2 separate regions of the Homo sapiens genome follow, and region 1 is linked to region 2. Evidence: fine-mapped expression QTL. Tissue or cell type: whole blood. Region 2 holds a variant in brackets; the other region holds the start of a gene. All regions are shown on one strand. Distances are from middle to middle.

Region 1 (5,757 bases), 53 kb before region 2:
ATGGGCACTCAATCATGTATGTCATCATTAAAGGTCACAGGAAGCCTATAACAGGTAATGCTTCCATTTTGGTCAAGGAGCAAACTGAAGTTCAGACACCAAGATGGCAGAGTTAGAATGCATACTCAGGTCCGTTAGCTTGTGATCTTTCCATGAAATCACTTAGCCAAAAAGACAAACCCAAAAACAAAATCTGGTAGGATTAATGTAAGTAAGGAAGCTTCTCTTTAATTTCTTTTGGTTTAGATGTGATCTTATATCTGTAGGGGGGAAAAGGTGAACAATATCTATTGCAAAAAGAAAGATGTTTGTAATTCTACAAGTTTGTTGACTAGGACAAGTGGAAATAGATGAAAATGGAAAATGTGTATTAAACAGTATATAAATAGAAGGTAATAATTTTTCTGAGTCCTATTGATTTTTGAAGGTAATTTTAATATTAGTATCAAAGTCTTCTAATCTCTAAAATATACTACTATTCTTCTATTTAGCTAGAGATATTGTAAAGCTATTGAAGACTCTTATAAGATTCTTAGGAAAGCTGCTATAAAACACAGACTTTATTATTTCTGACCTCATGTGTTCCTACTTTGTTCTTACCCCAATTACTGCATCCCTCATATTGCATCCTAATCATTACTCTGAGCTCTCTACCAGCAGTTGGGTTTCCTCAAGGCAGGGACCAGGTCTCTTTCACTGTGGTGTCCATCATAACCAGAACAGTGTCTGAAATATAATAAGTACTCAGTAAATGTTTATGGAATAAATCAGCAAACACTAACAAAAGGATTCATCTTTCTGATCCGTTTCTCTATTTCCAAAATGAGAAGATAGTAGTAATATTTTCCTAGATTGCTTATCAGGAATGTATGATAACTGTTCATACACTCTTTATTGGAGATATGTGCCACAGACATAAATGGCTATTACCATGATTAGTAAGGGGGTAATTATTACAATTTTTATTCTGGTTGAAATCTAACCAATTAAAAAATCTAACCAATACACGATCACACTGGTCTTTAAATTAAAAAAAAAAAAGAAAAATATCTAACCAATAAATTTTCGGAAAGAAATGTAGGCTATTTGAGGTAATAGGTAGTAGGAGTGTCTATCCTTGGGCGCTCATGGTAGAAAGAAAAGCAGAACCCCACCGCGGAAATGAGAATAATCCCTCACTAGGTGGCTCTCTTTGCCGTGAGTGGGCGGCGCGTCGGGGCGGGGCGGGTGATTGGGGGCATTGTACTGCCGCAAGCGCTGCGTGTCACGCCGCACCATACCAGGCGCTGGCAGCATGAGGGGCATAGTCCACTTTCTATTTCGTTAATGACAATCTGTCCTTGGAATTTATTTCAAAGCAGGTTGTACTTTCGTTTCCGCTAAACTTATACCTGATGTTTCAACTGAACATTGGTATAGTCTTATTGGTGCAGGTCTCAGAGAAGGATCTTGAAAGTGCCTCTTCACCTGGCGTAGAAAAAGACAGCAGGAATCAGGTAGCCAAACCAGACCAAACCAAATCAAAATAGCCCATTAAAATCCTTATTTTAACTATCCTATGAGGGCTGCATTCTTGGAAGGTTTTATATAGTTACATATCCTAAAGTACTTTGGGATAGCTCCTTAAGTGACTCCACAATACGAACCGAAAATATAACTTGTAAAACGTCAATTTCTTCAAGTCATGGATGATGAATTTTCCAGCTATTTCTCATACACTTCATATTATTATTGACTTCGTTCTTTATTTCAGCTTTTTGGCCCGAAACCTGACACAAAACACACATAATAAATATCCAAAAAGATTTGTTCTAAGAATGAAACTTCTTTTCCTAGACTCCTTTCACCAGACAGATGTATCTAGGGTTCGTTCTTCTTGATCCTCTTTTATCCGATGTTTTCCTCTCTAACTCAACGACACAGAATGACGACTTTTAAAACACTGCAGACCCGTGAGAAGAGAAAGGTTGCAGAGCAGGGAGGAACTTGGAGGTCTGCCTTTAATAATCAAGCAGGATCCCCACTGCGGGGTGCCTATCAGAGTGATGGCGCTAGTCAGCCTTCCGGCTTGTCCCCGGCTTAAATGATAGAAAACCACGTGTTAGCCTTCTAGGATGTGTTCCCACCCTCACCCTGGCCTCCTCGCGGCAGGCTCGCGACAGCTAGGTCAGGAGGGAGTACGCGGGTGGGGTGGATTTGGGGGAGGGGTCGACTCGCCAGAAGTCGGCTATCCCCGTCGGCAGGGAAGGCATCGCGGCTGTCGTGTGCCGCTCTCCTCCCTCAGGGACCCCGTCCAGGCGGGATCCCGCCTCCCAGAGCCCAAGGCAGTTGTGGGGAAACCCCTTGCCCTTCCTCGCCGCTTGGCGCTGTCGCCTCGCCCTCCCGACTCCAGCCCGCCGCCCGCCAGCCTCCAGGCCATGCATCCTCTTCGCAGGCCCAGCCCTCTCCACGCCCGGCTCTGAGAGGAAACTACGGAGGTGGTTCCCGCTCGCAGGCGGGTGGAAAAGCCCATGGTGAATGCCTCGGGGTGTCCCCCCAGTTGCTGTGGGAAGTGGGAAGGGAGGAGGAAGTGGACTTCACCACCGGGGAGAACTATATCGATTCCTAACTTGGGGGAGGCCTTTAGATGGAAGGGAAGCCAACGGGGAACCCTGGGTGGTTTCCTGGGAATCCATTGGCCAAGGGGAGGGTGACCCTGTCCGCACACATCGGTTACTATGACAATATAACCACAGCCTCCAGTTGCCATGGCAGCTGCCTATCCAATCCGATTGTCTTCTCTTCCTCTCCGGGCCCCACCTTATCCCCTCCAAGAGTCTCCCAGCGTGCATGGGGAGGGGCTGCAGCGAAGAGGAGAGGGGGTCCTTCGAGTCACTCTCTACGCGCGAGGGAAGACAGGCGTTGAGGGACTGCTGGGAGGAACTGTAGGAGGAAGGGGCGGCGTTTCCGGTGGGGAAGAGTGGAGGCGTGCAAAAAGGAAGAGGGAAATCGGCAGGAGTGATAAGAAGGGGGAAGACTTTGAGTGTAACTCCCGTTCTTTTGGCCTGGGTGTTCCCGGTGGTGGGATTGGGATTGCCCCCTTGCGCGGGAGGAGAAGGGTGGATTGGCAGGAAGCCGCCAAGCGCCACCAGCCGGTCTCTCAGAAGCCGCACAGGCGCCACACAGCTCGTTGATCCCAAAAGGGAGCGCTACAGAGAGGCGGAAATCACTGAGGGACAGGCGCTGCTGAAATCTCGCGAGAGGGACCCCCTCCCTCGCCCGGTCGCCGACTTCCTCTGCTTCTCCTCTTTCCCCCGCCCCTCCTCCCTCCCCCTCCCCCCCGGGTCGGAGTGTCCCTGCGCCCCACGGGCCAGAGCAGCAGCGAGAGCAGCTTTCCCCACTCCCTCCCCCTCGCCTCATTCACCCCCACCCCCCTGCCGAGCGAGGAGGAGCCGGAGGAGAGGAAGATGGCGGCGGCCGCCAGCACCCGCGGTGCCGCGGGGCCGCTCCGAGGAGCCTGAGAGACCCACGGAGGCTTCGCGGGAAGACGCGGCGGCGGCGGCGGAGGATGAGCCTGCAGAGCGCGCAGTACCTCCGGTGAGTGCCGAGGCCGGGCTGGTACGTAGGGGGAGCGGGCCGCAGGTTGGGGCATGGAGCAACAGACACCGAGGTAAGTCCGGGGTGGCGGGGGAGTTGCTGCGTCCTCTCCTCGCCGGGCAGGTCGGCGGAGACTGCAAGGGGATCTGCGGGAGGGGGCGGAACGGGTATGGGTGCCTAGCCCCTACCGCCCGGGCTGAGCTCTGGCGAAGCCGGCTCGTCCCGGTGCGAGGAGGGAGGTTGGGGAAGCGTGAGAATGTGCGCGCGCGCCCTTGGTCTCGGGTTTGCTAGCGAGGGGTGGAGAGAAACGTCCGGGGAGGCGGCGGCGACCCCGAGTGGAGGTGGGTGTGGAGGAGTCTGATCCCCGTGGCAGGGGACTCGTGGTGTGGCGTGGGATTGGTTGGAGCGATGCATGAGTAGAGGACGGGGAGGAAGTCTGCACACCTGGGGTGTTGGGGCGGGGGAACCGCGGAGGGCAGACAGGGGGAGAGGGAGACCGCAGGAAACTGGAGCTTGTTCTTCATTCTCGGGTTGGGAGTATTGAGGAATAATGTCATCTGTAGTTAGTTGGCGGTGTGGGGAGGCGTGAAGGGGAATAGATGGGGAAGTGAGGAAAGAGGGAGGCACTGTGGACAAGGTTGGGTTTTTCAGAAGAAACTGGGTTAGAATCAGTGTAGTCGGAAGATACCATTCTGAGAGTCGTGTGTATTCATTAAGAGTGGTGTAAGGAACTTGTATGTCAGAGGTAGAGTGACACATGGGAATAGTGTGTGTGTGTGCGAGATGTGTGTCTGGGGTGGGGGGCGCGGCGATTGATGCACATTTCAGGATGAAGATGTAGATAGGTTGAACTTAGTACCTGATGGCGAGAACATATTGAATGGAAGGACACCAGCTTTTGTGTCAGCTGAAAGGTTCCATGGAAGCTGAGTAAGAGCTTGGAGGCAGAGGTAAAGTGGGTCAAAAATCTTGATAGAGAAAAGTAAGGTTGTTAGATCCTGAAATTAACTGGGGAGTGACTACTGCTTAGAAAAGGGGAAGACTTTAAAATTGGTCCTTTTTGTCTTTCAGGAGCAGAACTAAGAAAGGGAGGCCTTATGGAAAGATGTTTTTTAAAAAATTGTTTCATACCTTGCGGAGGAGGGAGTTGGATGAGGTGGAAGTCTGAAATGAGTGGAAAAGTCACTTTAGCTGTTTAGTGACATGAAAGTATTGACGTGTGTGGATCCCTATATGTATATTGCAAGAGGTGTGTAGTTACCTGATACATAGGGTGGCCATTATAATTTTTAAAGTAGTAAAGTTTTATTAAGCATAATAGGGAGAGAAGAGAATGATGAGATATTTGAACAATGCTTGAATGCTTGATTTTAACACAACATATATGCCCAGTGACCACAGGACAGTTGGAATGATGTCTGTAATTTGAGGTCCTTTTTTTCATCTTAGATATCCCTTTGTTGTTTAATATTTCAAATAAATATAGCTATGACAAAGATCTGTTGTAGGTGCTATAGAGAGATGGAAACCATCAGGGTGCTGATTAGTCTTAAGGAATTTGCAGTTGAGTATCTGTTAGGCAAGTAAATTAAACAGCACAGAGTGTAAGTACCATGAAAGATACCAAACGTTGCCGGGCACGGGGGCTCACGCCTGTAATCCCAGCACTTTGGGAGGCCTAGGCGGGAGGATCACCTGAGGTCAGGAGTTCAAGACCAGCCTGGCCAGCATGGTGAAACCACGTCTCTACTAAAAATACAAAAAATTAGCTGGGCATGGTGGTGGGCGCCTGTAATGCCGGCTACTCGGGAGGCTGAGGCAGGAGAATCGCTTGAACCCGGGAGGCAGAGGTTGCAGTGAGCCGAGATGGCGTCATTGCACTCCAGCCTGGGCAACAAGAGTGAAACTTCGTCTCAATAAATAAGTAAATACATAAATAAAAATAAAAGATACGAAGTGTTTTGAGTCCAAAGGCAGGAGATCACCTGAGCAATGGGAGGAAATCAGGAAAGACTTTGTTTATTTGCTCATTCATGTACTCATGATTCATTAGTTGTTTTGTTGATCACCTGTATGGGAGGCATTGTACCAACATCTGAGAATAGAAAAAGAACAACTCCACCCTCCTTTTACAGAGCTTACACTTTGTTAGACTTCAAGAAAATGGCACTTAGGATATTG
Region 2 (5,757 bases):
GAGTAAAGGAGGAGTCAAAGCAAATACAATTATCAGTGTGAGCAGCTAGTCGAGTGGTTGTACCATTTACTGAGATGGGAAACACTAGGGGGAAAGTAGCTTTTTCCCTATTAAAGTAGATGCCTGTTTGACATCTAAGTAGAGATTTGAAATAAGCAATTGAATAAACAAGGTTGGAGCCCAGTGGAAACATCATAAAATCATAAAAATTTTATGATTATAGTAAAGAACCCTGACTTAGTCAGATGGTAACAGATTTAGCACAGGAGGAGCCACCATTGCAATCAAGAAAATGAGAGAGAGAAGGTGCCTTGGAAGCCAAGAGAAAAACATCTGAATAAGGAAGGGAGTCATCAGCCCTGTTGAGTGCTGCTGAGAATTAAAGTAAGATTTAAAGTGACCAATTAGGTTTGACAACATGAAAGTCATTGGTGAACTTAATGAATACCATATTTCTTCATTTCTGAAACTTTTTTTTTCATATTTTAACATATCTGAAATAGAGATAAGTTTATAACAGATGACAAGTGACCATATAACTTGTGGTTTTTTCTCAATATTATATAAGATGATGGTTCATCTTATAATTTATGGTGTCTTTGTATTGATGAAATGTAACTTCAGCAGTGTTGGGGATAGAAACCTGATTAGAGTGGATTGAGAAGAGACTAGTACTTGGTTATCCACAGTAACATTTTCTGTGAAGATAGTTTTTTAGTTTTTTGTTTTTTTTTTTTAAAGACAGGCGCTCACTCTATCATTTTGGCTGAGTACGGTGCTTAATCATAGCTCACTGAAGCCTCAGACTCCTTGGCTCAAGTGATCCTTCCCCACCTCAGCCTCCCAAATACCTAGGACTACAGGCTCATACCAGCTACCTTTTTTTATTTTTTGTAGAATGGAGTCTCACTATGTTACCCAGGCTGGTTTAGTTTTAACTTCTTAGCTACCATTTTGTTAACCAGTTAAAGCATGGGGCTTAAAGCAGAACCAAATTCCTGGTCAAAGTAAAGACATACCATTCTGCTGTAGGTTGTTTTTAAACATCAAAGAACAGAACGGTAGCCTTTATTCTAAGAAAATAGGAACCAAAAAGAAAGTATAATCACTGAGTTTCTGTATTAGTTTAAAAGGTAATATTCTATACCTTCATAATCAATCTTTCATTCTTGGCATGGAATAAAGAGCTGAGGAGACAAGAGATAGTGTAAAAATTGATAAATAGGAACCCAGAAACTGTTCTAGTACTGCTCTAGGGCTAATTGTGACTATTTGGACAAGTCACTACCTCTGTGGTGCTTAGCTTTCTGATTGTAAAAAAGAGAGTTGACAAATGCTTATAGGTTCATTTTCCAGTTTTATAGTTCCATGATTATAATTTGGGAAGAACTAGAGGCATTAATATTCAGCTACAGCCTTAGGAATATCTCCCAGTCAATACTTCTGTATAATGAAGTAACTAAGTTCTTATCAGACTGAGGAAACTACTACAAAGTAATGTACATCAGGGTCAACCTATATGAAGGTAGGACATTGTTTTGTTCAATTTATGAAACATCCTTTTCTCTTCTTTAGTTCCATCTTGTTACTGCCTCTAAACCAACTAGAGCTCTCTTTCTCAGAATCTTTGAGCCAGTAGGAGCTTTTCTGTCTGATATCACCACTTAAACTCTTGGGCTCAGGCAGAAATTTTATTACAAGACATTCTACATGATGTTCCAACCATAATTTTATTTATTTTTTGTGATCTTTCTTTTTTGTTTTTGCTAGATGTGCAGCCTTGCCTAGTTTTCCAGTCTGTTTTTTCATTACCTATTGAAGTCAGTTCTTTAACCCTCTCATGTTTCTTAGTTATCCACTTTTGTTTTTTGTTTTTTTCATAATATATATGTAGGTATATATATATTTACATATATATATTTTTTTTGTTCCTGCCCTGTGCCTTGTGCTTTTTCTATTTCTTAACCCATCCCGTTCAGGACATTAACTTATTTACCCTGTTTTTTTATGTATTCATTTTATTTTATTTTATTTATTCATTTTTTAAGACGGGGTCTCTCTCTGTCACCCAGGCTGGAGTGCAGTGTATATCATAGCTCACTGCGGCCTGGAACTCTGGGGCTTAAGTGAGCCTCCCGCCTCACCCTTCCAAAGTACGGGGACTATAGCACTGCATGCCACCACACGTGGCTAATTTTTTGTTTCACTTTATTTTCATTTTTATATTCATTCATTTGTTTATTTTGTAGAGACAGATTCTTGCTTTGCTGTCCAGGCTGGTCTTGAACTCCTGACCTCAAGTGATCCTTCCGCCTTGACCTCCCAAAGTGTTGGGATTACAGGCATGAGCTACCATGCCTGGCCTTGTTTACCCAATTTTATGTTAGTGAATTTCTTGCCCATTACAAATGTACAAGTAAAGATGGAGTAAATAATTTCCATGCCCAGTGAGAAAGGGTGCGCAGAATTTATATTTAGTTATGGAGGTGATTTTTATCTTAGGAAAAAGGTGGCATGATTCAGATCCTTCTGAGTTGAGCCCTTAGGGTGTCTTATTTTGTATTTTGAATTCTGTACATGCTAGAAAGAGTGGTGATAGAATCAAAATATTTCTAATTCTATAACCTTAGTCCAGTCGCTTGATTATTTCTGCCTTCACATCCTCATCTGAAAAAAATTGAGCTTTATATCTATGTATACTGTGTTGCTACTAGTTTATCACAAGGATAAAGTGAGACAAATTTATCAGATAACCTAGGGAAATAAGTTACGTTATAAATGTAGAATATTCTGTTGGTTATATTGTGTGTCATGTTGTCTGTCCTTCTCTCCTTTCCCTTTTCCCTCTCCCTCCCTCTCTCCCCTCTACTTCTCTTTTTGTACCTGACTTGCCCATTTAGCTACAAGCTCATGAAGGAAACATATTTTCTTACTTGTCTTTGTATCTTTCTTGTTTACTGGGTGTCTGATATACTAGCACATACTTGGATGAATATAATAATATTTGAATGACGATATTTGTAAGTAAATATTTGAATAACTGTGAAGTAAATATTCTTCACAGTGTGAAGAACTGTGTGCGGGGCAAGAAATAAGCCCTTGGCAAGCAAAGTGAGAGGAGAAAAGCCTTTCTATGAAGGAGACTGAAAAGGAGTGATTGGAGAGATGACAGAGAACTAGAACAGCTCAGTAATCAACCATAAGATCAGATGTTTTAAGTGCAGCAAAGAGGTCCAATAAGATGATGTCTGAAAAATATCC[G/A]TTGTATTTGGCTATTAGGTAACCAATTGTCTGATAGTAGTTTCAGTAGAGTGGTAATGGATGGTTGGGTGAGAGGAGGGAGAGGGGTTGTGTGGAAGCCAGATGATAATGGATTAAGGAGTAAATAGAAATTGAGAAAGCAGATATGAAAAGTGTGGACTCCTTTGAAGGCATTTGGTTGAGAAGAAGGAGAGACATTAAAAGGTTGCTATAAAGTCAAGAGGAGAGTGTTTTAGCTCTGTTTTGTTTTTTGTTCTTGTTTTTTTCTGTGGGAGACGTGGTGTGTAGGCCATAGGAAAGAAGCATGAAAAGTTGACAGTAGATGAAAGAATGGAGAGGTGGGAGACAGACAGGAACCAGAAAAGAATGTAGCAATAGGCACACATAGGCAGAAGAGTTAGCTCTGACTAGGAAGAAGAGCCCCTCATACTTTAAGAACAGAGAAGAGAGGAGGTAGGAATGGGTGATACAGTAAAGGTGTACACTACGGTGAGATTCGTTGTATATGCAAAGACATGTGAATTGGCATACAGCTTAAGAAAATAAATTGCAAGAAATACCTAAAGTCTGACAAATACCTTGGCTTACATTTAAGTCAAATTTGTAACCAATATTTAATAATTTTTGGGTTTCTGAGAGTAGTAGCTTTCTTTGCTTGCTTAATGTGTCTGAAAATCGTGTCTGAAAATCCTATCCAGTTAAATAATCTTTTTTTAAAATGCTGCTGTATGCACATCCTAGATTGCTGTAATACTTGAGAATTCAAAAGGTATGATTTATAATGAATGATACTAGTTATCCTGTGAAAGATTAACGTATAATATATATATATATATATATTTTTTTTTTTGGAGACAGTCTTGCTCTCTCACCCAGGCTGGAGTGCAGTGGCGTGATCTCGGCTCACTGCAACCTCCGCCTCCTGGGTTCAAGCGATTCTTGTGCCTCAGCCTCCCTTGTAGCTGAGACTACAGGTGCTCACCACCACTCCCGGCTGATTTTTTTTTTGTATTTTTAGTAGAGACGGGGTTTCATCATGTTGGCCAGGCTGGTCTCAAACTCCTGAGCTCAAGTGATCCGCCCGCCTTGGCCTCCTAAAGTGCTGGGATTATAGGCGTGAGCCCCTGTGCCAGGCCCGAAAGATTACCATATAATTTTCATGCAGTTTTTGTTCAGATTTCAGCAGTATGTGGTACTAGGTACACATCTTACAGTTTATAAACTTTACTTTTAGAGCACTTGTGACTTACTACTAAATTTTGTTTGTTTTTCTTTTAGTTATTACAAGAACTGTGTACAGTATTTAATGTAGATTTACCATGCCGTGTGAAGTCTTCCCAATTGGGAATTATCAGCAATAAACAGACGCATACCAGCGCCATAGTGAAGCCACAGTCTAGCTCCTGTTCCTATATCTGCCAGCACTGCCTCGTCCACCTTGGAGACATTGGTGAGCCTTTGCTGTGAAGGAATTGATAATATGTTCCTCCTTTTCTTTGGAATAGTCATAGAAAGAAACTGTTTTCCTTTAAGCGGAGCATACACACACAATTTAGATTGTCATAAGAAGAAACTATAAAATGTATTCTAAGGAACTTAAAATTTCTCAATATTTTTGGGATTGGCAGAGCATCGTGAAGAAAGTAACTTTCATATTAAGATTTAAATTTTATTCCAACTTTATGTAATTTATATAGGCAAATAATAAACAGCAAAAACATAATCAAAGCTTAATTTTTCAAAGTGGTGCCATAATTTCTAAATTAAATGTACTCTTCTGGAATAAATGAGGTTTATAAATTACTCCTGAAGCGAAATTGCCTTCTTTCTTTCTTACCAATGGACTAAAAGTTGATTTTTAATTTTGCTTCCTTTTTAAAGTTTAATTTGTATTTCTATTATTTGCATTTTATCTGGGAATATTATATAACTTATTTATTCTTGTTCATTCCTTTAAGGTGACCTAGAAAGGTTGTAAAACAAATTAACTATAGGATTATGTTTTGCTTGTCCTCAAATAACAAAGAATGGAGAACATTACTGCTTTTAAGTTTGAAATTTTAGATTTCTTAATATTGTAAGTCAGCGGTTCCATGAGGAGGTCACATCAGAGTAAGCAGTGAGTTTGGCAGGGAGATTCATTGATACTGTGTTTAGGTTGTTTTGCTTTAAATATAATCTTTGCACACACATATTTAATATTGCAATAGGAATGAGACATTTTTCAAAATCACTTTATAAAATATTGAAAAATACATAATTTTCAGATCATATTGTATAGTGTATTTTGTTTTGTTTTGTTTTTAAGTGCCATATAACTCACCCCTTCTTGTGGGCCGGCTCCAGGTCACCAGCATAGTCCATAGTGGGAGCTGGTGATGCATGACACTGGAGGACCTGAAAATGGGGTCTAGGTAAGCTTTAAAATTGGTTACATGCTGAATGTCCCAAATAAGGAAGGCTGATGGACACTTCACACATAATCCTATAGTTAAT

What was found. PIP is the estimated chance that this variant, and not a neighbour inherited with it, causes the effect.
Region 1: SMG7 starts here. The variant in region 2 is fine-mapped to the expression of SMG7 in whole blood (INTERVAL, PIP above 0.99).

What each region holds. Positions count from the first base shown.
Region 1 is chr1:183,469,074-183,474,830 of GRCh38, forward strand. SMG7 (SMG7 nonsense mediated mRNA decay factor) reads left to right here and starts at 3,426. Exons shown (of 23, transcript NM_001375584.1): 1 at 3,426-3,576. The coding sequence starts at 3,548. SMG7-AS1 (SMG7 antisense RNA 1) reads right to left here and starts at 2,909. Exons shown (of 5, transcript NR_040063.1): 1 at 1,647-2,909; 2 at 1,392-1,467; 3 at 601-726. RefSeq lists silencers at 1,102-1,291, 3,264-3,413 and an enhancer at 2,477-3,108.
Region 2 is chr1:183,522,057-183,527,813 of GRCh38, forward strand. SMG7 (SMG7 nonsense mediated mRNA decay factor) reads left to right here. Exons shown (of 23, transcript NM_001375584.1): 5 at 4,540-4,711. Among named protein-coding and RNA genes, the nearest start is that of SMG7, 52 kb to the left of the region's middle. The variant G/A (reference allele first, on the strand shown) is at 3,262.